Linked DNA regions of Homo sapiens: region 2 is linked to region 1. Evidence: fine-mapped expression QTL. A gene starts in region 1. The other region holds a variant in brackets. All regions are shown on one strand. Distances are from middle to middle. Region 1 holds the start of FGD2 (FYVE, RhoGEF and PH domain containing 2). Region 2 overlaps FGD2 (FYVE, RhoGEF and PH domain containing 2).

Region 1 (9,550 bases):
CTTTTTTTTTTTTTTAATTTAATGGAGACGGGGTTTTACCATATTGGCCAGGCTGGTCTCAAACTCCTAACCTTGTGATCCGCCCGCCTCAGCCTCCCAAAGTGCTGGGATTACAGGTTTGAGCCACCGCACCCAGCCCATCCTTCATCTTTCATACTTCAAGTCACCTCTGCCACAAAGCCTTCTGATGACCCTTCTTTGGATGTTCATAACTCCCTTGTTCAAAGCTTTCATCACATCCTATTTTAGTGGTTAACAGGCCCATCTTCCTTATTAGAGTTTGAGCTAAAGGGCTGGGGACTGTGTTTTATCTACAACCTCTACTATGGTATTGACACATAGTAGGTGCTCAAGAAACACTTATCTACTGAATGCGTGACTTAATGAATAGGGCGGAAAAGACAAAATTAAACAGAGAGGAACACCAGGTCTCTGAGGAGGAAAATGAATTTCCAGCAGTAGGTATAAAGGAAGGCTTCCTGGAGGAAGTGAACCGGCTGTAGACAGACTGAAGACACTCTAGGCCAGGGATCCCGTAGCCTATTAGGAACTGGGCCGTACTGCAGGAGGTGAGTGGCGGGTGAGCATTACCACCTGAGTTCTGCCTCATGTCCCATCAGCAGTGGCATTAGATTCTCATAAGAGTGCGAATCCTATTGTGAACTGTGCATGTGAGGGATCTAGTTTGCTCACTCTTTATGAGAATCTAATTCCTGATGATCTGAGTGGAACAGTTTCATCCCAAAATCATCTCCCCACCCCCCGCAACCCCAGAAACCAGTCCCTCGTGCCAAAAAGGTTGGGGACCACTGCTCTAGGCAAAGGGAACTGATTGGTCAAGGCAGAGCGGAGCTATAGCAAAGGCTTCTCTCAAAAGTAAGAATGCTGGTAGCCAACAGTCACCGAGTACCTACTCAGTACCAGGCCTTACTCTAACCTCTTCTATATATTATTATCCCATTTAATCTTCATAACAACCACAGGAGGTTGGCAGTATAATTATCCCCATGTGGCAGAAGAGGAAAGTGAAGTTCTGTTACTGGTCCAAGGTGCTACAGAGAAGCAGAAGGACCGGGAGTGACACAATACAGAAGATGGAAGAGCTCAGTTCCCTGCAGCTCAGATGGGGGAAGGTGGGAGGGAGAGAGTGTGAGGGAGGGATGCCCAAGCCAGAACTGCAGGGATCCAATACAGAATACAGAATTTGACCTTATACAGTGTGGGAGCTTCTTAAAGAGTTAATGCTTCTGAGTCTAAAGTAAGCAGGGCAGGCAGTGGGGAGGAGAAGCCGGCAGGGAGGTAGGGGGAGCAAAGAGGAACTGAACTAGTCAGGAAGAGCTGGGACTCTGGAGGACGGACAGGTGGCCACCTCCAAGCCATCAACTTTGATGACACAGGTTATCTTTGTCCTGGAGCTAAGCATGCACCTGGCCCAGGAGCTGGACAAGCTGAAAAGGAAGATCAGTGGAGAAGCAACAGACCCACATCAACATGTATGATCTGCAACAGGGCTGGAGCTCTGCACTGACCCAGGAACAAAACAGGGCTGCTATATCCCCTCCTGCATCCATGGCTAACAGTAGTCCAGACCATGCAGGGAAGGGGATTCTGGGGCTGTGGCTCAGCGTGGCTCAGCTTAGCTCAGCCACAGTACCCGGCAGGTTTGGATCCCAACACAGATTAGGTGTGTGCAGGCAAGAAGTAGCTGAGAGTGTCAACCAGGAGGATCTTGATGGCTGCCCCAGTGAGTTTGAGATGACTTCAGTGCAATAATGGTGCTGGCTTTAGAGAGTTGTGTGTTGAGTTGGAAGCAAAGGTAGGCATCTACCTGGTGATATCCTGAAGGTGTTGGACATATCCACTGGGTAGAAGGGCAGGAAGAGGTACCAGTGGGACCTCCAGGATAAATTCTGAATTGGGTGGGAGGTGTGTGTGAATCAGGAGACCAGAAGGCCGAGGCTGAGTCTCAGGTGATGCCTGCAGGTACAGGCAGAAAGCCTGGCAGACTGTGAGGGGCCCAAGTCAGAGTGGTAGGGGACAGGGGAGGCAGAGCCTTGGATGATGAGGGAAGGTTGTTTTGGGGGTGTAGACATCTTGGCCTCTTTTTCCTGGAGGGAAGCAGCTCTGATGGTGCCTGTGCCATCTTCAGGGTTAGGGTATTGGAGGCCTCTTGAAGGCCCACCTACCCACCCTCCAGCCCCCATGGGAGGGGCAGGTCCCATTGTTCAGGCTTGGATGCTCAAAGCACTGGCAGCTGAGGGGTAAGACAATCCTCTGAGGCTTGGGGTGTGATGTCTGTCCATTCCACATGCCTTCTGAGGCCCCACTGTATGCGGGAAGGGCGCTGGGGTTGGGGACCCACCAGGAAGTGCACGTACTCAGGTGTGCCCTGCGTGGAGGGAGCAAGCCAGCCAGTGAGCAGAGAGACTGGTGGGAGGCAGAGGAGGAAATCCAGGAGAGGAACACCAGGGAGGGAGGCGCCCCCAGGCCAGGGAGGGCATCGGGAAGAAGTGGCATTTAAAGGTGATTCTGATCGAGCCTCTAGACCTAACCACCATCGACAGGAAATCCAGGGTATGGCGCTGCAATGGGCTAAGTCCTGGCTGTGGGACCTACAGGACAAACAACCCAGGGTCCCTCCACTATGCTGTGTGGGAAAACGGAAAGGACCAGGGGAACGTGTGGATGAAAAGTGAATTCATCCACGTGACAGCTCAGGGAATGTGTGGACCTTATTTGGATTCTGATTTTTTTTTTTAATTTAACATTTATAAGGAATTGGCACTTGGAATGTTTTCTGGATATTTAATTATATTGAGGAATTATTGCTAAATATCTCTTGGGGTATGATAACGGTAATATTATTTCATATGTATATACACATGGATATAACATGTAAAACATGTATGTCTATATAAAACAATATTACTATTATACATGTGTATATATGCATATACATTTATGTGTGTGTATATTTAGTTATTTAAAGGGTTCTTGGCTGGGCGCGGTGGCTCATGCCTGTAATCCCACTACTTTGGGAGGCCGAGGCAGGTGGATCATCTGAGGTTGGGAGTTCGAGACCAGCCTGGCCAACATGGTGAAACTCCGTCTCTACTAAAAATACAAAAATTAGCTGGGTGTGGTGGCACACACCTGTAGTCCCAGCTACTCAGGAGGCTGAGGCAGGAGAATCGCTTGAACCCAGTGGGGTGAAGATTGCAGTGATCCGAGATTGCAGCACTGCACTCCAGCCTGGGTGACAGAGTAAGACTCAGTCTCAAAAAAAAAAAAAAAGAGAGAGAGAGTTCTCATCTTCTAGATACACACTAAAATGTTTATGGGTAATGTCATCTGACATCTGGGATTTTCTTCAAAATGACATGAGAAGGCAGAGTCGATGTGGCTGCAGCAGGGACAGGGGACTGGCTGTGAGCTGAGGTTTGTTATGGTCTGGATTAGGGGTTCATGGGATGCATTATATGATTCTGTCTAGTTTTGCATATGTTCTAAATTCTCCATAATAAAAAGTAAAAAACAAAAATGGAGGTTTGTGAGACTTAGGGTTTGGGGCAGGGGGCCCGGCATCTGGTGGGAGAAACCACTCAGACGAGGCTTGGGGTGAGGGCGGCTGTTGGGCATGTGAGGCCCCAGGGGTTCACAGTTACTGGAGCGTGAAGCTGTTCCAGGCACTTCACGTACCAAGAGCACCGAGGCTCAGGCCCTGCACTCCAGGACACAGACCAGGTTCAGTGGAGAGCCCTGGTGGGACCAGAGCCCAGTGGGAGGGCCCTGAACGGCCTGTGGGGCTTGAAGGAGGGGAACAGAGGCAGCGTCCATTTGTTCTGTAAGGGCCGGGAGACCAGGTGGTAAAGGAGGCCTCAGGCAAAGACAACCCAGTGTCCTGGGATCAGGGAGGCCTGGGGATGGAGCAGCAAGAACATGGTCATCCAGGCTCCCAACGAACCTTTGCTGGAACTGTAGGACACCCACTTTTGCTTTGGAAATCCAACTTCTCTTGTATTCTTCCTGGGTGACCTTGGGCAAGTTACTTAACCTCTCTGATTCTGTTTCTTCCTATGTAAAGTGGGGATAGGAATAGTACCTACCTCATGAGGTTGTTATAGGATTAATAAGAAAATACTCATAAGCATGAAAAAGAGTGCATGTTAGCTATTATTATCCTCTGAGTTTCAGGGAGGAAACTGCCCTCCCTTGGGGCAATGAGGTGATGACAGCAACAACTAAAATGAGAGAACCCCAGTGGGGAGGTGGGAACATCACAGTACTCCCTGCCACCCTTACCAGGTTTGTGATTATTTTAAATAAAACATGCTGTTTCCTGGCCAGGCACAGTGGCTCACATCTGTAATCCCAGAATTTTGGGAGGCCGAGGCAGGAGGATCACCTGAGGCCAGGAGTTCAAGACCAGCCTGAGCAACATGGTGAAACCCCATCTCTACTAAAAATACAAATAATTAGCAGGGCGTGGTGGCAGGCCCTGTAATCCCGGCTACTCAGGAGGCTGAGGCAGGAGAATCGCTTGAACCGGGAGGCAGAGGGTGCAGTGAGCCGAGATCCCACCACCGCACTCTGTCTCTAAAGAATAAAAAAGACATTATTTCCTTACAGCTGTGAGCAGGGGCAGATGCAGAAAAGAAGGTGCTGGGAAAGAGGCCAAGTAAAAGCCACTGGACCTTCTGAAGGAGAAAGTGTGGTTGGCTGGAACCACTAGGCCAAGAAACCAGCCAAGGGTCTGGCTCCGGGTGGCCTTTTTTTTTTTTTTTTTTTTTAAGAGACGGTGTCTCACTATGTTGCCCAGGTTGGTCTTGAACTCCTGGGCTCAAGCAATCCTCCTGCTTCGGCCTCCCAAAGCACTGGAATTAGAGGTGCAAACCACTGCACCAGCCCAGACTGGGCTCCAGAAGCTACCTCTGGGCCCTGTTGCCACCTCTTAGGTGGCTTCTGGAATGGGGGTCTACAGGTGTGAAAGGTCAGCCCCCCTGAGGGAGAGGTGGGGCCCGAGCAGGCTCCTCCCACTGCGGGAGTGCTGGCCTTTCCCCTGCAGGGCTGTGGCTCTGGGACCACTTCCTCTTTCTTCACTCTGAAGCCAAGAGCCGACCTTCTGAGCCCTCAAGAAAGATCAGAACAGATTCATGGGTGATTTAGCCTATCTGTCCCAGGCCAGCGTGGCTGAGTGTGCTGGCTGGAGGCCTCTCTCTCTGCTTCGAGGGTAGCTGAGATCCACCCCGGAAACCGGCAGGATGAAGGGGGCAAGTGAGGAGAAGCTGGCATCTGTGTCCAACCTGGTCACTGTGTTTGAGAATAGCAGGTATGGGCAGCTGGGGTGGGAGGGTCACCATGGTGGGCTGGCAGCCACCCTCCAGCCTTTCTGGCAGCTCTCTCCCTGGGCCCTGCCCCGGACCCTCCTCCTGCAGGGGCAGCCCCGCGTTCCTCGGTCACGGATTCCTTGGAGCATGGGAGAGTGTCGGTGGGACACCAGGAGCCAGGCAGGGGTGAGAGTGCCAGTGTGTGTTGGGAGAGTCCAGACAGGTGTGGTTACGAGCAAGCATGGGCAGACCAAAGCCTGTGTGTGGGCACAGGACCCCACCCAGTGCCTGCCAGCACCTCTCAGAAAAGGTAGCTGATACTCACCAAGAATTTACGCCCTATGATTAGGATAACCATATAATTTATCATTCAGCACACAATTGAAACTGAAAGTAAATGCCAAATAAAATGTGGTGGTTGTGGGGGAGGCATTACAGGTAAAGCTGGGACCGTATGAGGCAAACCAGGATGTACGGGCAGCATCCTGATGGGGTACTCCCTACTCTAAGTTCATGTCCTTACTTATTTAATTTAGTCATCGAACAGCCTAATAGGGGTAGATTCTGTTTCTGTTCCCGTCTTATAGATGAGGAAATGGAGACACAGAGAGGTGAGGATGCCAAGTGCTTTAAGTATCTGGGGCAATGCTGGGGCGTCTGTCTGGAGGGAAAAGGCTGGGCCAGATGCGTGGAGTCATTGGTAGCCCTGGGAGCATGTGTGTTTGTGTGTGTGCGCGTGTGTGTATGTGTGTGTTGTGTGTTATGTGTGGCATCAATCCATTCTGCAGGCATTTCTTAAGCTCAGGACTGTGTTAGGGGCTGTCCCAGGTAGGGTTTTCTGGAAATAGACTCAGACAGAGGTTTGCCTCAGGTGATTTATCAGGGAGAGCTTTTGGGAACAACAGCTGTGGGTGTGAGGGAAGCAGGGCCGGGCAGGGGGAGATGCTGAACTGCAGTGCACCTGCCACAGAGGCCTCAGCCTGTCCCAGGGAGCTCTGGAGCTGGGATGCCTCTCGGTTGTTCCAGCTGAGGAAGAGGGCTGGGTATTTGTATCTCCATGTGGACTGGACAAGAGACTCTGGGTGAGGCAGCTCTCTCTTCCAGAGAGTGATTCCCAGAGAGGGACTCAGCCAATAAATTACCCGGCAGCCCCCAGTACTACCAGTAGCTGGTGGGGATGGTGTGGGGAGGCCTCATTCCTGAAGGAGGGACATGGGTGGCACAGCACAGCATCCTACAGGAACTGTAGAGGATGAAGAAGGGTTTCAGTATTTGGATGCTGAGCTCATCGAATAACTATGATGCAAGGTCATAGACAGTAGATGTCCTAGGAATGGCCCGGATGCTGTATTGAGGGCACTCATGGCAGGCAATGTTTCCTGTAGGCTTCAGGGTGGAGATGGCATAGATGTAGACCTAGAAGTCTTCAACTTCCTGAGCTGGGTGATTCTCCCCTGCCTCTCCCGGGATCTTTGCCAAGCTCGTCCTGTTCAGCACCAAAGACAGCTCTTGGGTGCCGCCTTCCTGGCCCACCACCCCCTTGGGTGTGGGTGGATGGTACCACCTCACTCAACATGCTTGACGTGGACTAGGCACACCTGGGTGGAGCCCCTCAGCATGCTGTGCTCTGCCCAGGCAATAACCCTGGCAGGAGTGGGCAGCCCTTAGACGGGAGTTAGGTCCCAGCAGGCATCAAGAGGGTGAGAGCCACTCCTTACTGAGTGAGGGGACCCATACCAACTGCCTTGGCCTGGGCTTCCTTATGAGGTCTCCAGCACCTCAGCTGATCTGAAACTGAGGGGCAAAGAGGAAACAGAAGCTGGCCAGGGGCCCTAGAACAGAAATGCAGAACCTGAAACCAAATGTAGAACAGAAAGCCTGAGAACCAGCTACGCCCATGAGCTGCAGACCCATGGGCTGAGAAACCAGGGACTGGGGTGCCAGGGAGGGGTGGGAGAGCCTGGGAGTAGCCACACAGCACTAGGTCCCAATGCTTTCGCTGCCACAAACCCAATTGTGTCACTTGGGGCAAGTCACTTTGACTCCGCGGACCTGTTTCTCCTTTACTCAAATGGGGAGGGGCAGGTTAGAGTGAAGGCTCAGGAAGCAGTCGCCTGATTTGAATCCCACCTCTGCCACTTCCGAGCCGCATGTTACTCATCCTGTCCAGACCTCAGTTTCCTTGAGTGCAAAATATGGGTAATGAAAACCTTTCTCACGGAGTTTTGGAGATTTCGTATTTGTTTGGCCTTCCATTTCCTGGCCTGTCTTTCTCATAAGGATGCCTGCCCTGTTCTGTCATCACAAGCCCTTCCACACCAAGGGCAACGTTGGGTGTATTCATCAAGGGTGGGCCCTGTTGTCTAAGGAATTTGACTGGCTTGCAGAACCCAGTACACAGGGTAATAAAGGTGACCTACGAAGGCCCGTCCCTGGGAGAACAGAGCATCTGCTGCTGGGCTGGCTCTCCCTGCTTCTGGACGTGTGGAGGATGTCGATCCCATTGAGAAGCCCCAGCTTTTGCAGGCCTGCTCTCACTTTATATTGTTCTGTGGCTCCTACCTTCCCTTGATGTATAGGTTACTGATGTGGAAACTGAAAACAGAGGTGAGGTCCAAAGGTGAGGATAATCCAGGGGGTACCACTCAAAAACCCCTATATACAGAAAGGATTCCTGGACACTGTGGCTTCATTTTAAACAAGGAAGTATGCAGTTCCCCAGAAAATAAAATATAGTCCACCCTGACTCATTTTGAACACTGAGTTCCCTCCAAGAATGTGTTGGGAGAGAAGTGAAAGTCTTACTCAGCATGTTCCCAAAGAAAGCCAGGCACCCAGGGGCCCCTGCACTGGGGATTTGCACCAGGCAACCCAAATCCACACCAGGGACTTGCTGCTGTTTTCCCTGTTCTCCAGGGAGGAAGCCCTCAGGTCTGTCTCTTCTCCTCAGGACCCCAGAAGCAGCACCCAGAGGCCAGAGGCTAGAGGACGTGCATCACCGCCCTGAGTGCAGGCCTCCCGAGTCCCCAGGACCACGGGAGAAGACGAATGTCGGGGAGGCCGTGGGGTCTGAGCCCAGGACAGTCAGCAGGAGGTACCTGAACTCCCTGAAGAACAAGCTGTCCAGCGAAGCCTGGAGGAAATCTTGCCAGCCTGTGACCCTCTCAGGATCGGGGACGCAGGTGCCTGAGGGCTGAGGTAGAGGTGTGGGGTGCTGGGGTGGGGAGCTCTCCCTGACCTCCCCTCCACACATGCTTTCCTAGCCAGAGCCAGCAGTTCCCCAGGTGGGGGTATGGTGTGATCAGAGGTCAGCTGGGAGCTAGATTTCCCCATGCTTAATGGCCTTTGATTCACTAACTGCCTGCTACGCACCGTGCTGGATTACTTCGCGAGTCCCTCGTGTAGGAGTTTTTTGGACAAGGAAGTTGAAACACAGTTTTAAGGAACTTATTCAAGGCCACACAGCTTGGAACAGTCTCCATCTTGTGAACCTAATACTCTTCTCAGGTGGGGCCTCAGTTTACCCACTGGAGGAGACAACAATCTCAACCTAGAAATAGAGGTCTGAGTGTGAACTGTCCTGCCCTTAGACTAAAGCCCAGTCTGATCTCTTCTGTGGCTTGCAGTTTTCTCATCTGCAGAGTTCAAGGGTTGGCATGCAGATACTGTGCACCCAAATTCCCTGGAGTCACATCCCAGCACGTCTGCTTACTAACTGTGTGTCCTTGGGCAAGTCACTTGAGTCTCTTTGTGCCAGTTTCCTCATTTGTAAAATGGGGATAGTGGTTATAGTAATGCGTCCTGGTTTTCAATCGCTGCTGAACAAACCTATCAAAAATGTAGCGGCTGGCCGGGTGCAGTAACTCACGCCTGTAATCCCAGCACTTTGGGAGGCCGAGGTGGGCAGATCACCTGAGGTCAGGAGTTCAAGACCAGCCTGGCCAACATAGGGAAACACTGTCTCAACTAAAAATACAAAAATTAGTTGGGCATGGTGGTGGGCGCCTGTAATCCCAGCTACTCAGTAGGCTGAGACAGGAGAATCACTTGAATCCAGGAGGAGGAGGTTGCAGTGAGCCGAGATTGCGCCACTCCACTCTAGCCTGGGTGACAGAGCGAGACTCTGTCTCAAAAAAAAAAAAAAAAAATGTAGGGGCTGAATGTAACTGTTTATTGTTTCTCACATTTTGTGAGTTGACTGGGATGCTGCCGGGAGGTTTTTC
Region 2 (10,781 bases), 23 kb after region 1:
GCCTCTACCCACCCAGCTCAGGTGCTGCTGTCCCCATCTTGGCCAAATCTGCTGGCTTCAACCAATGCAGCCCAGTGGTGTTGGGCACTAGCTCTGAGCCAGGTGTGTGTATTACTACCTCATCTGGCCCTCACAGCACACCTCAGGAGGCTGCTGTTTCCCATTTTTTAGATGGGAAAATGAGACCCATTGAGGTTAAATTACTTGCTGAAGGTACCCCTGAAGCTGATCCTATGAATTTACCTGCATTCTTATCATCATTTTCCACGACCCTGAGACCCAGAGCTAGGAAATGGTCCCCAGTTCTAGTGGAGGGGCATCTAGCCCCGCACCCCCTCAGGCCTTGCCCCACCACCTCACCAGGCCCATGCCCACTATGCACTCACCCACCCCGTCATCCTCTCTTTACCCGCTTCGGCTAACTGTCCTCTCTTCTCTGCAAGCCCTCAGCACCCTGGCACCTGATGGATTCTGTTGTTAACTCTGCCTACTGGTTCAGGCCTCAGTCTCCTTAACTCCGCCATGGGGATCGTGAAACCTACCTCCAGTGTGGCAGTGAGGATTCCACCAAAAAACATTCTTTCCCTTCCCTCTCCTCTTTTTCTTTCCCCCTCCTCCATAACTCAGGCAGGGCATCCAGTGCGGGTGAGCTACCAGCTTCTTGAGGAGGGTACTGTGTCCACTACAGTTTCTCCTCTTATCAATCCAGGCCCAGTTACCAGAGGTAGATCTCGCTTTGCTTTTTAAGCACTCCTGTACTTGAGCTGTTCTCTGTTGACATCACAACCCCCTCTGTTTACTCTGCAAACAGAGAAGCCCTTTGCAACCTCAGTCTTTGATGACCTCCAGAGGACAGGAGGAGTCTAGCTGGACAGGTTGGGGCCAGTCAGGGAGGTGTCCCCAAAATGTGTTCAACTGCAATCAGGACAGAGTCAGTTTCTAGGACCTGGGAACACACCTGCCTTCAGATGTCAGTGATGAGTTACATCCCGAAGCCAGGTAGAAAGGATGTGGGGATTGGCTACTGTTCCTGGTGATTCACTTCTGTAAATAAGAGTTGAATTGATTCACACTTGTGAGTGAAAGTAGTTCTTTAAAAATTACTTAAAATAGTGAAATACAAAGAGGCACAAAGAATAACAACACCTGTGTAGCTGCCTTCCAGCTTAAGATAGAAAATATTCTGACAACTAAATTAAATGTATGATCCTTGCTTGGATTCTTTCTGGGGTAAAATAAAGCTATCAAGGTTGCTCTTGGGACCATTGGGAGAAATTTGATGATGCAACATATCTAGATAATAATATTGTATTGGCTGGGTGCAGTGCCTCACACCTGTAATCCCAGCACTTTGGGAGGCCGAGGTGAGCGGATCACCTGAGGCCAGGAGTTCGAGAACAGCCTGGCCAACATGGTGAAACCCTGTCTCTACTAAAAATACAAAATTAGCCGGGTGTGGTGGTGTACACCTGTAATCCCAGCTACTCGGGAGGCTGAGGAGGGAGAATCGCTTGAACCCAGGAGGTGGAGGTTGCAGTGAGCCCAGATCACCCCACTGTACTCCAGCCCAGGCAACAAAAGCAAAACTCCATCTCAAAAAAATAAAAATAATAATATTGTATCAATAAATTTCCTGAGCGTGACTGTGACACCGTGGATAGGTAGAAGGATGCCCTTGTTCTTAGGAGACCACCAGCTACATATTTAAGGGTGAGGTGTCATGATGACTGTAATTTATCCTCAAATGGTTCAGAAAAAAATAAAATACATACATATAGAGAGAGACAGAGAGCAAATGTGGCACAAATGTTAATAATTAGTGAATCTAGTGGGTGGTATCATTGTATTATTTGTTCAATTTGTCTGTCGGTAGGAAATTTTTCAAAATTAAACGTTGGTAGAGGAAAAAATATTTACTAATTATATTTAAACATTGAAATCGCTCAATAAAAAAAAAATGCTCCTGAGGTAGCTGAAGCCCCCGTGTGGGGCTGTGCCCTGACCGTGGGTTTCTCTTGCCTGTGCAGATCTTCGTGCCTGCTGAGCCAGTGAGTCATCCTTTCGGTGGTTCGGGTGCCAGTTTCTGTCTCCCCTGCCTGCCAGACGGGAATCCTTGTGAGGGTGGGGCAGGGCCAGGCCTTCTTCTCCAGGTCCCTGCCAGGCCACACTCTGTGCTGGGCACACAGAGGAGCTCCCTGAAGGCTGGTGCCGCCTGATGAACTACACTCCCTCTGCCCCTTTCTCCTGCCCTCCATCTCCACGCCCACATCTGGGCTCCCCATAAAGCCAAGTCTTCCTCGCAGTCACACCTTGCGGCACCCAGTGTTCCTCTCTGAGTCTTCCCAGGCCCCTTTTACCCAGCCTCCCGGCATGATCCATGTCAGCCTTTGGGGGGTGTCTTCGTGGTGAGCTGAGAGTGGGCCCCGCTCCACAGAGTACCCATGTAAAAACAACCAGCCTATCATTTTTAGGTGAAAACACACTTGACTCCATGATGGCGCAGAATACAAAGTCTGCCTGAATCTTAAAGCTAAACTGTGGGACTTGAAAGACACACCCTGTGTGTGGAGGGCCTGTCTGCCAGGTAACAGTGTGGCTCTCAGGGTCAGGAGAGGACAAAAGCTGGGCCCTGCTTGCCTGGTGGGGTCTTTGGGAGAGTCAGGTGAGATGGCGGAGAGGACAGCATTTGGAAAAGTGAATCAGATGCCAGTGGCCCGTCTGGGGCAAGCCCCTTGGGTTCACAGCAGCCCTCACTCGGAGGGAACCTGGAGGGGAGAGAAGTTACGGCCCTCGCGGTGGGGGCCGGGTCTTGAACCCTCAGCCTAAGAGCCCCGAGCCCGAGCTCCCCCATGTGTCGCAGCCTCCAGGCAGTTGGGCCTCACCAGCATGGGGGAGCATCCCCGCTCTGCCTCTATTCCTCCCTCGAAGCTTTCTTTTCCTCCCCCAGTCCCTGGTTGCTCTCATGCCCCCACCTGCCCACCAAGGCAGGAGCCCAGCCCTCCGGTGCCTGGTCTCAGCCCCATGCCCCCTTATGTGTCCTCCTCAGGTGGTGTGTGCCAGGTGCTCCGACTACCGGGCCGAACTGAAATACGACGACAACAGGCCCAACCGAGTCTGCCTCCACTGCTACGCATTCCTCACTGGAAATGTGCTGCCTGAGGCCAAGGAGGACAAGAGGCGGGGCATCCTGGAGGTGAGGGCCACTGTCCCCGCGCTCACCATCCGTCCTCTGTTCAGGGAATGTGTGCCCGGCAACCATGCTGGGCTGACACTGTCCAGTGCTGAGGAACAAGCCAGCCATGGTCACACCCTCCCCCCTCTCCCTCTTCCTCTCTCTGCCCACAGACCCCAGGCCTCTCGCCACAGCCCAGGCAGTGTGGAGCCTGTCACCAAATGGAGGCACCCTTTGGCTGCAGGCTGTCGTCCACATTCTTCTGCACTTCCTCTATGTCCCCATCCGATAGTACGGCCCCTCTGGACAGCTCATGTTCACGTCCCCATGTCCTGCCCCGACAGTCCCAGGGTGCCAAGAGCTGGTGTCACCGCTTCCATTTTACAGATGGGAACACTGACGCTCCAGGTCAGACAGATTGGAGACTCCATTCTAACTGGAAGGGACTCCAGGGGCCAGTCGGTCTTATCCCATGGAGACCCAGGGCTGGAGGAGTGACTTGCCCAAGATCACACAGCAAGTTAGGAGCCAGCTCTCTGATCTCAGTCACAGATGTTCTTTCTGTTGCCCTGGGGGCCTCACTGAGCCACACTTGCCCCCACAGGTGCTCCCCTGTGGGGGTACAACTGTGCTCAGCTAGGCAGCACAAATACAATGTCAACCAGCTCAGCATCAATACCACTGTCCACTGCCCCTCCCTCACGAAGGCCAGGTTGACATCCCACCGTCCCTGGGAGGTGGGAGAAGGTCCCAGCCTGTGCCAGCTGAGATTCACTCCCAGGTTCAAGTTGGCCTCTTTTGGCCAGGCGGGAAGGCTCATGCCTGTAATCCCAGCACTTTGGGAGGCCAAGGTGGATGGATCACGTGCGGTCAGGAGTTCGAGACCAGCCTGGCCCACATGGTGAAGTCCCGTCTCTACTAAAAATACAAAAAAAAAAAAATCAGCCGGGCATGGTGGTGCATGCCTGTAATCCCAGCTACTCGGGATGCTGAGGCAGGAGAATCTCTTGAACCCGGGAGGTGGAGGTTGCAATGTGTTGAGATTGCACCATTGCACTCCAGCCTGAGCAACAAGAGAGAAACTATCTGAAAAAAAAAAAAAAGTTGGCCTTTTTCCACGGGCATCCACCCCGTTTCCAATCCTCCCCATCCTTCCAGGCCCAGGACCCCCTGACCACTAGGCAACACAGCCTGCCCCTGGAGATGCTCAGCCCCTTCTCAGGGCCCAATTCTGTTTCCTGGAGCAGCTCCAGGCACCCTCCCGGCACCTGCCCCTTGTGGGCACACACGCGACAGGTTCAGGCAGGCTGGGGTTTGACTGCAGCTCTGCCACTGGCCAGCTAGCTGTGTGACCACAGGCACTTGATGGGACCTCTCTGAGCCTCAAGGACCAAGGACCCCTCCATTCAGTACTGCTGTAAGGATTGGAGATAGTGATTGTCAAGCCCCCAGACCAACATCTGGCACTTGCGGCTGCTCTGCTCCCTGACAGTCCCTCCTTCTGGTTTTAGAAAGGGTCCTCAGCCAC[G/A]CCTGACCAGAGCCTGATGTGCAGCTTCCTGCAGCTCATCGGGGACAAGTGGGGCAAGAGCGGCCCCCGGGGCTGGTGTGTGATCCCTCGGGATGACCCCCTCGTGCTCTATGTCTATGCTGCCCCTCAGGTAAGGCCACCACCTGCCCGCCCCCCGTCAGGCCCTGGCCTTCCCACAGCGTGTGTGTGAAGGGGGTCAGGGGTGAGTATTGCTAGCTCCATATGTCAGATAGGGAAACTGAGGCCCAATGAGGATATGGTATCCTGGAGTCTCAAGGTTGGTAGGTTTCAGAATTGTGCCCTGACTCTAGGTCACCACTGCTTTGCCCTCAGAGGCAGCCAGTTCTTCTGTCCTCTTCCTCGATGGCCTTCACCAGCCCACCCCCAACCCATGGGGGTTTAGGGTGTGAGCTGTGCGTGCGTGGCTGTTGCCTTCACGATGGCTATCTGGGGCAGTAGGACTGAGAGGGGACAGTGGCCCACTGCTCTCTCCTCCCCCCAGGACATGAGGGCTCACACCTCCATCCCCCTGCTGGGCTACCAGGTGACTGTTGGGCCCCAGGGGGACCCTCGGGTCTTCCAGCTACAGCAGTCAGGCCAGCTCTACACCTTCAAGGCCGAGACGGAGGAGCTGAAGGGCCGCTGGGTGAAGGCCATGGAGCGGGCGGCCAGTGGCTGGAGCCCCAGCTGGCCCAACGATGGGGACCTGTCCGACTGAGCCACTGCCAGCCGCTCTCCTGCCCACCTCTCCCCACCCTGAACCCAGCTCCTGCCACAGACTGACCCTGTGGCCTCAGTGACCCACTGCCCCAAGTGGTGCTTTCAGAGAATTGATTCAGCCATCTGCGCCCAGGCCACGTGTCCCGATCTGGGATTAGAAAATATGGGTCCATTCCTTTCTAGAAAGGGGACAACCAAGTGTCTCAGTTTGCCTTGCGGGGAGGGGGCTCCTGGGCCATGGGACTTCCAGTGCTAAAACTGGGAAAGCCCCAGGTAACCCCGGACTGGTGGTCACCATAGTATGGTTTTTCATTTGTATCTCCTGGGGAGCTTTTAAAGAGTACTGGTGAAAAACACATAGTAAATTAATTTTAAAAATGTAAAAAACAATGCCTGTACTGAAGTACCACCACCGATTTAAATGGGCTGAGTTGGGGGAGGCATGGGGTCTTTTTTTTTTTTTTTTTGAGACAGAGTCTTACTCTGTTTCCCAGGCTGGAGTGCACAAACATGGCTCACTACAGCCTCGCTCTCCCGGGCTCCAGTGATCCTCCCGCCTCAGCCTCCCAAGTAGCTGGGATTATAGGTGTGTGCCACTGTGCCAAGCTAATTTTTTTATTTTTTGTAGAGATGGGATTTCACCATGTTACTCAGGCTGGTCTCAAACTCCCAGCCTCAAGCGATGCTCCCACCTCCACCTCCCAAAGTGCTGGGATTACAGGCGTGAGCCACCATACCTGGCGCATGCATATTTTTTAAGAGTACCCACTGGAGTCTAATATATAGCCTGGGTTACCTGGGATGAAGAATAAAGAGAGCAAACTACCACAACCAATGGTTGAGCCCCTGTCAAGTGCCAGTCATGATAGTAGTAATAATAATAATAAACATCTATTGGACCAGGCTCTGTGCAAGGTGTTTTATGTGGATTATGTCATTTTACCATCCAGAGTTATCCCCATTTCCAGATGAAGACACCGACTCAGAGAGGTTTAGTAATTGGCTCAATTGGTCATGTAGCTCGTAGATGCCAGAGCCAGGTTTTAACCCGGTGAACTAAGGTCAAAGCTCTTTCTATCATGGAGCAGAACAATAAGACAAGCAGAGAGGGGAGGAGAGTGAGGAGAAGCAAAAGAGAGGGAAAGAGAGTGAAGAAGCTGGGAAGACAAGAGAGAAAGGTGAATGGTGGGAGGAAGGGTGACGGGAGGAGCATCCCTGTCCCCTCATCCCCACCTCGCTGGTGGGTGAGGATGCTTTTTCATAAGAGACCACCAGGGGGTGGCAGTGGTCAGCAGGCCACATGCAGTGGCCCCAGCAGTGGCCAGAACACCCTCAGCTGCTCTCAGCAGGTCCAGCCATTGCTGGGCTCTGCCCTGAAAGGAGGAAGCATGGATGAGTCACAGGTTTTTGTCCCATCACAGGCCCAGCAGCTTTGCCTGCCTCCAACCTGAGGCCACTTCCCTCCTGTAGGGTGTTTGTTTGTTTATTTGAGACAGGGTTTTGCTCTGTCATCCAGGCTGGAGTGCAGTGGTGTGATCAGAGCCCACTGGAACCTTGACCTTCTGGGTTTAAGCTATCCTCCTTCCTCAGCCTCCTGAGTATCTAGAAGCACAGGTGCACGCCACCACATCCAGCTAATTTTTAAAATTTTTGTAGAGATGGGGTCTCACTATATTGCCCAGACTGACCTCAAACTCCTGAGCTCAAGCAATCCTCCTGCCTTGGCCTCCTAAAGTGTTGGCATTATAGGCATGAGCCACCATGCCCGGACAGCATCAGCATTTTATTTATTTTTTATTTTTATTTTTATTTTTGAGATGGAGTCTGTCACTCTGTCACCCAGGCTGGAGTGCAGTGACGCCATCTTGGCTCACTGCAACCTCTGCCTCCCAGGTTCAAGTGATTCTCCTACCTCAACCTTCCAAGTAGCTGGGATTACAGGCGTGCGCCACCATGCCCGGCTAATTTTTGTATTTTTAGTAGAGACGGGGTTTCACCATATTGGCCAGGCTGGTCTCAAACTCCTGAACTCCGGTGATCCACCCATCTCAGCCTCCCAAAGTACTGGGATTACAGGCATGAGCCACTGCACCTGGCCTGCATCAGCATTTTAAAACTCGCCAATGATGCTGAAGGCAGCTGGCTCGGTGACAGCAGAGTCGATTCTGCAGCACTGATACCTAAGCTTTTCCAGGGGTTTAATCTGAGTGGGAGTATGGAGAGTGGCTTCACTGTGGAGCAAAATGAGGTAGCCGTCAGGAGAGGGAAGCGAGGGCACACAACCTTTGTGCTGTCATTGTTAGGTTTACTGAGGTGTAATTTACAGACTGTAAAATCCACCCTTATTAGTATATTTTCTAAGTTTTGGCAGAAGAGTACAGTCATACAGCTACCACCACAATCCCCCTATAAGTGTCCCCATGCCACCCTTTGTAGTCAACCCACACCCCTACTCCTTGCCTCTGGTAACCATTGATCTGTTTCTGACTGATAATTTTGCCTTTTCCAGATGTCATTTAAATGGAACCATAGCTTTTTAAGCCTGGCTTCCTTTACTCAGCATTATATATTTGAGATTCATCCATTTTGTTCTCCATGTCAGTAGTTCATTCCTTTTTCATTGCTGAGTAGTATTCCATTGCATGGGCATACCACAGTTGTTCATCTGTTTACCAGGTTAAGTATACTTGGGTTATTTCCAGTTTGGGGCAATTATGAATAATACTCCTATGAACTATAAACGTTCATGTTCAGTGTTTGTGTGAGCACGTTTTCTTTTCTCTTAGGTAAATACCTAAAATTGGGTCACTGAGTAAGTGTCTAACTTTATCAGAAACTACCAAGCTGTTTTCCATATTGGTTGTACCATTCTGCATTCCTACCAGCAATGTATGACATTTCCCCTGCTCATGCATTTGGTATAGTCAGGTTTGAAGTTTGTTTTTTTAAAATTAATAATTTTAGACATTCTGGTGAATGTATAGGGCTCATGACCTTTTAAATGTTTATGATACAAAGAAATGCATACAGGCTCACATCTGTAATCCCAGCACTTTGGGAGGTCAAGGCAGGAGGATCGCTTGAGCCCAGGAGTTTGAGTCTGTAATGAGCTATGATTGTACCACTGCACTCCAGCATGGGTGACAGACTGAGACCCTGTCTCAAAATGAAAAAAAAGTAGGTATTTTGCAAATGATTATTACCTACTATGTGTACCTAATACGTGCCAGGTAGTATACTACTTATACTACTTTTTCTTTTCTTTTTTTTTTTTTTTTGAGATGGAGTTTTGCTCTTGTTGTCCAGACTGAAGTGCAGTGGCACGATCTCCGCTCACTGCAACCTCTGCCTCCCAGGTTCAAGCGATTCTCCTGCCTCAGCCTCCCAAGTAGCTGACATTACAGGTATGCACCACCACGCCCAGCTAATTTTGTATTTTTAGTAGAGACGGGGTTTCACCATGTTGGCCAGGCTGGTCTCAAACTCCTGACCTCAGGTGACCCACCTGCCTTGGCCTCCCAAAGTGCTGGGATTACAGGTGTGAGCCACCACGCCTGGCAAGGTAATATGCTACTACTTTCCAAATCTCAGGGGCAGCTGATATCATGCAAAGGGCACCCCCTTGATAGCCTGAAAAGCTCAAATTCCAGTTCTGTTGAAGGCTTGACATAGGGTCTTGGGGATATCACCCAACCTCTTGAGCCTCCATGTATTCATTGTAACTTGACAAGCAGTGCCTCTTTGTAGGATTTGGTGTGAAAACCAAGTGAGATAATTCAGGGAAAGCTCCTAGCCCACAGACGGAGCTCGCTGGCTGGGAGTTGTTACTAGCTATGCTCTTCATGGACGTTTCTGCTTTCCTGGGACCATTTGTTCTGGCCGCAAGCCTGGTTGCTTCTACCTTCAGGATATACTGCGAACAGAGCCCGTCCTCACACCTCATACCCCTCACATGCTGTCACTTGGCCCGGCCACTGTGATATCTCTGGGGGTGATTGCTAGAGCTTCCCACCTGCCCTTCCTGCTCCCACACTTGTCCTCTGGCATCTTCACACAGATTCTTTCAAATCTGAAAGCTGAGCTAGTTTTCAGCTCCCAGCCCTCCAGTAGCATGGGGTTAGAAGCCCATCTAATGCCTCCCTCCGTGTGCTCCACCAGGCCCTTTGGGATGACCCCTGGCTGCTTCTCAGAGTTCCCCCTTCCCTTGCCCCATCTCACCTCCCTCCCTCAGCACACTTCCACCTCAGGACTCTTGCACCTGCTGCTCGTTCAGCCTGGATGCTGTTCCTCCAGAAATCCGCCCGATGCACTCCCTCACTTCTCTCCAGTCTCTGCCTCATTGGCCCTCGGACAGGCTTCCTTGTCCACCTGCCTCACGTAGTGCTCCTGGCAACTCTGCCCCTGACTCTGCTTCACATAATACAAATCGTTTTATCTATTTTGTTTCTTTCTTTCTTTTTTTTTTTCTTTAGACGGAGTCTCGCTCTGTCACCCAGGCTGGAGTGCAGTGGTGCGAGTGGCAAGCTCCGCCTCCCGGGTCCATGCCATTCTCCTGCCTCAGCCTCCTGAGTAGCTGAGACTACAGGCGCCCGCCACTGCGCTGGGCTAATTTTTTTGTATTTTTAGTAGAGACAGGGTTTCACCGTGGTCTCGATCTCCTGACCTCGTAATCCACACGCCTCGGCCTCCCGAAGTGCTGGGATTACAGGCGTGAGCCACCGCACCCGGCTTCTATTTTATGTTTCTTAGATTAGTGTCCTGTCTCCATTTTTGGAGGGCAGAGAGTTGGTCTTTTGTTCACTGCTGTTTCCCAGTGCCTGGCCCACAGCCAGTCCTCAATAAAAATCTGGGGACTGGCTGGGAGTGGTGGCTCACAACTGTAATCCCAGCACTTTGGGAGGCTGAGGCGGGCAGATCACATGAGATCAGGAGTTTGAGACCATCCTGGGCAACATGGTGAAACCCTGTCACTACCAGAAAATACAAAAATTAGCTGGACATGGTGGCACACGCCTGTAGTACCAGCTACTTGGGAGGCTGAGGCAGGAGAATCGCTTGAACCTGGGAGGCGGAGGTTGCAGTGAGCCGAGATGGCACCACTGCACTCCAGCCTCAGTGACAGAGTGAGACTCTGTCTCAAACAAAACAAAACAAAAGATCTGGGGACTGACAGAATGAATTGTGTGACTCAGACACGACAAGGCCATCACCTCGTACTTACTAATCATCGCCACCACTATGTCCATGAGGTCATGGGACTTTCACATCTTTCCACTTCCCCAGCATGACGCTCTGTTATTCGTCTCTGTATCCCAGGGCTTAGCATGTAGCAAGTGCTTGAAAAATACCCTCTGGCCTGGA

Evidence for each region.
Region 2: its variant is fine-mapped to the expression of FGD2 in whole blood (TOPMed, PIP above 0.99).

Annotation. Positions count from the first base shown.
Region 1 is chr6:37,000,557-37,010,106 of GRCh38, forward strand. FGD2 (FYVE, RhoGEF and PH domain containing 2) reads left to right here and starts at 5,099. Exons shown (of 16, transcript NM_173558.4): 1 at 5,099-5,329; 2 at 8,278-8,509. The coding sequence starts at 5,262. RefSeq lists a silencer at 4,697-4,859 and enhancers at 5,115-5,244, 7,065-7,234.
Region 2 is chr6:37,022,746-37,033,526 of GRCh38, forward strand. It overlaps FGD2 (FYVE, RhoGEF and PH domain containing 2), which reads left to right. Exons shown (of 16, transcript NM_173558.4): 14 at 3,047-3,193; 15 at 4,684-4,830; 16 at 5,203-6,324. The coding sequence ends at 5,418. Among named protein-coding and RNA genes, the nearest start is that of FGD2, 22 kb to the left of the region's middle. RefSeq lists enhancers at 1,765-2,964, 2,676-3,613, 6,898-6,977. The variant G/A (reference allele first, on the strand shown) is at 4,701.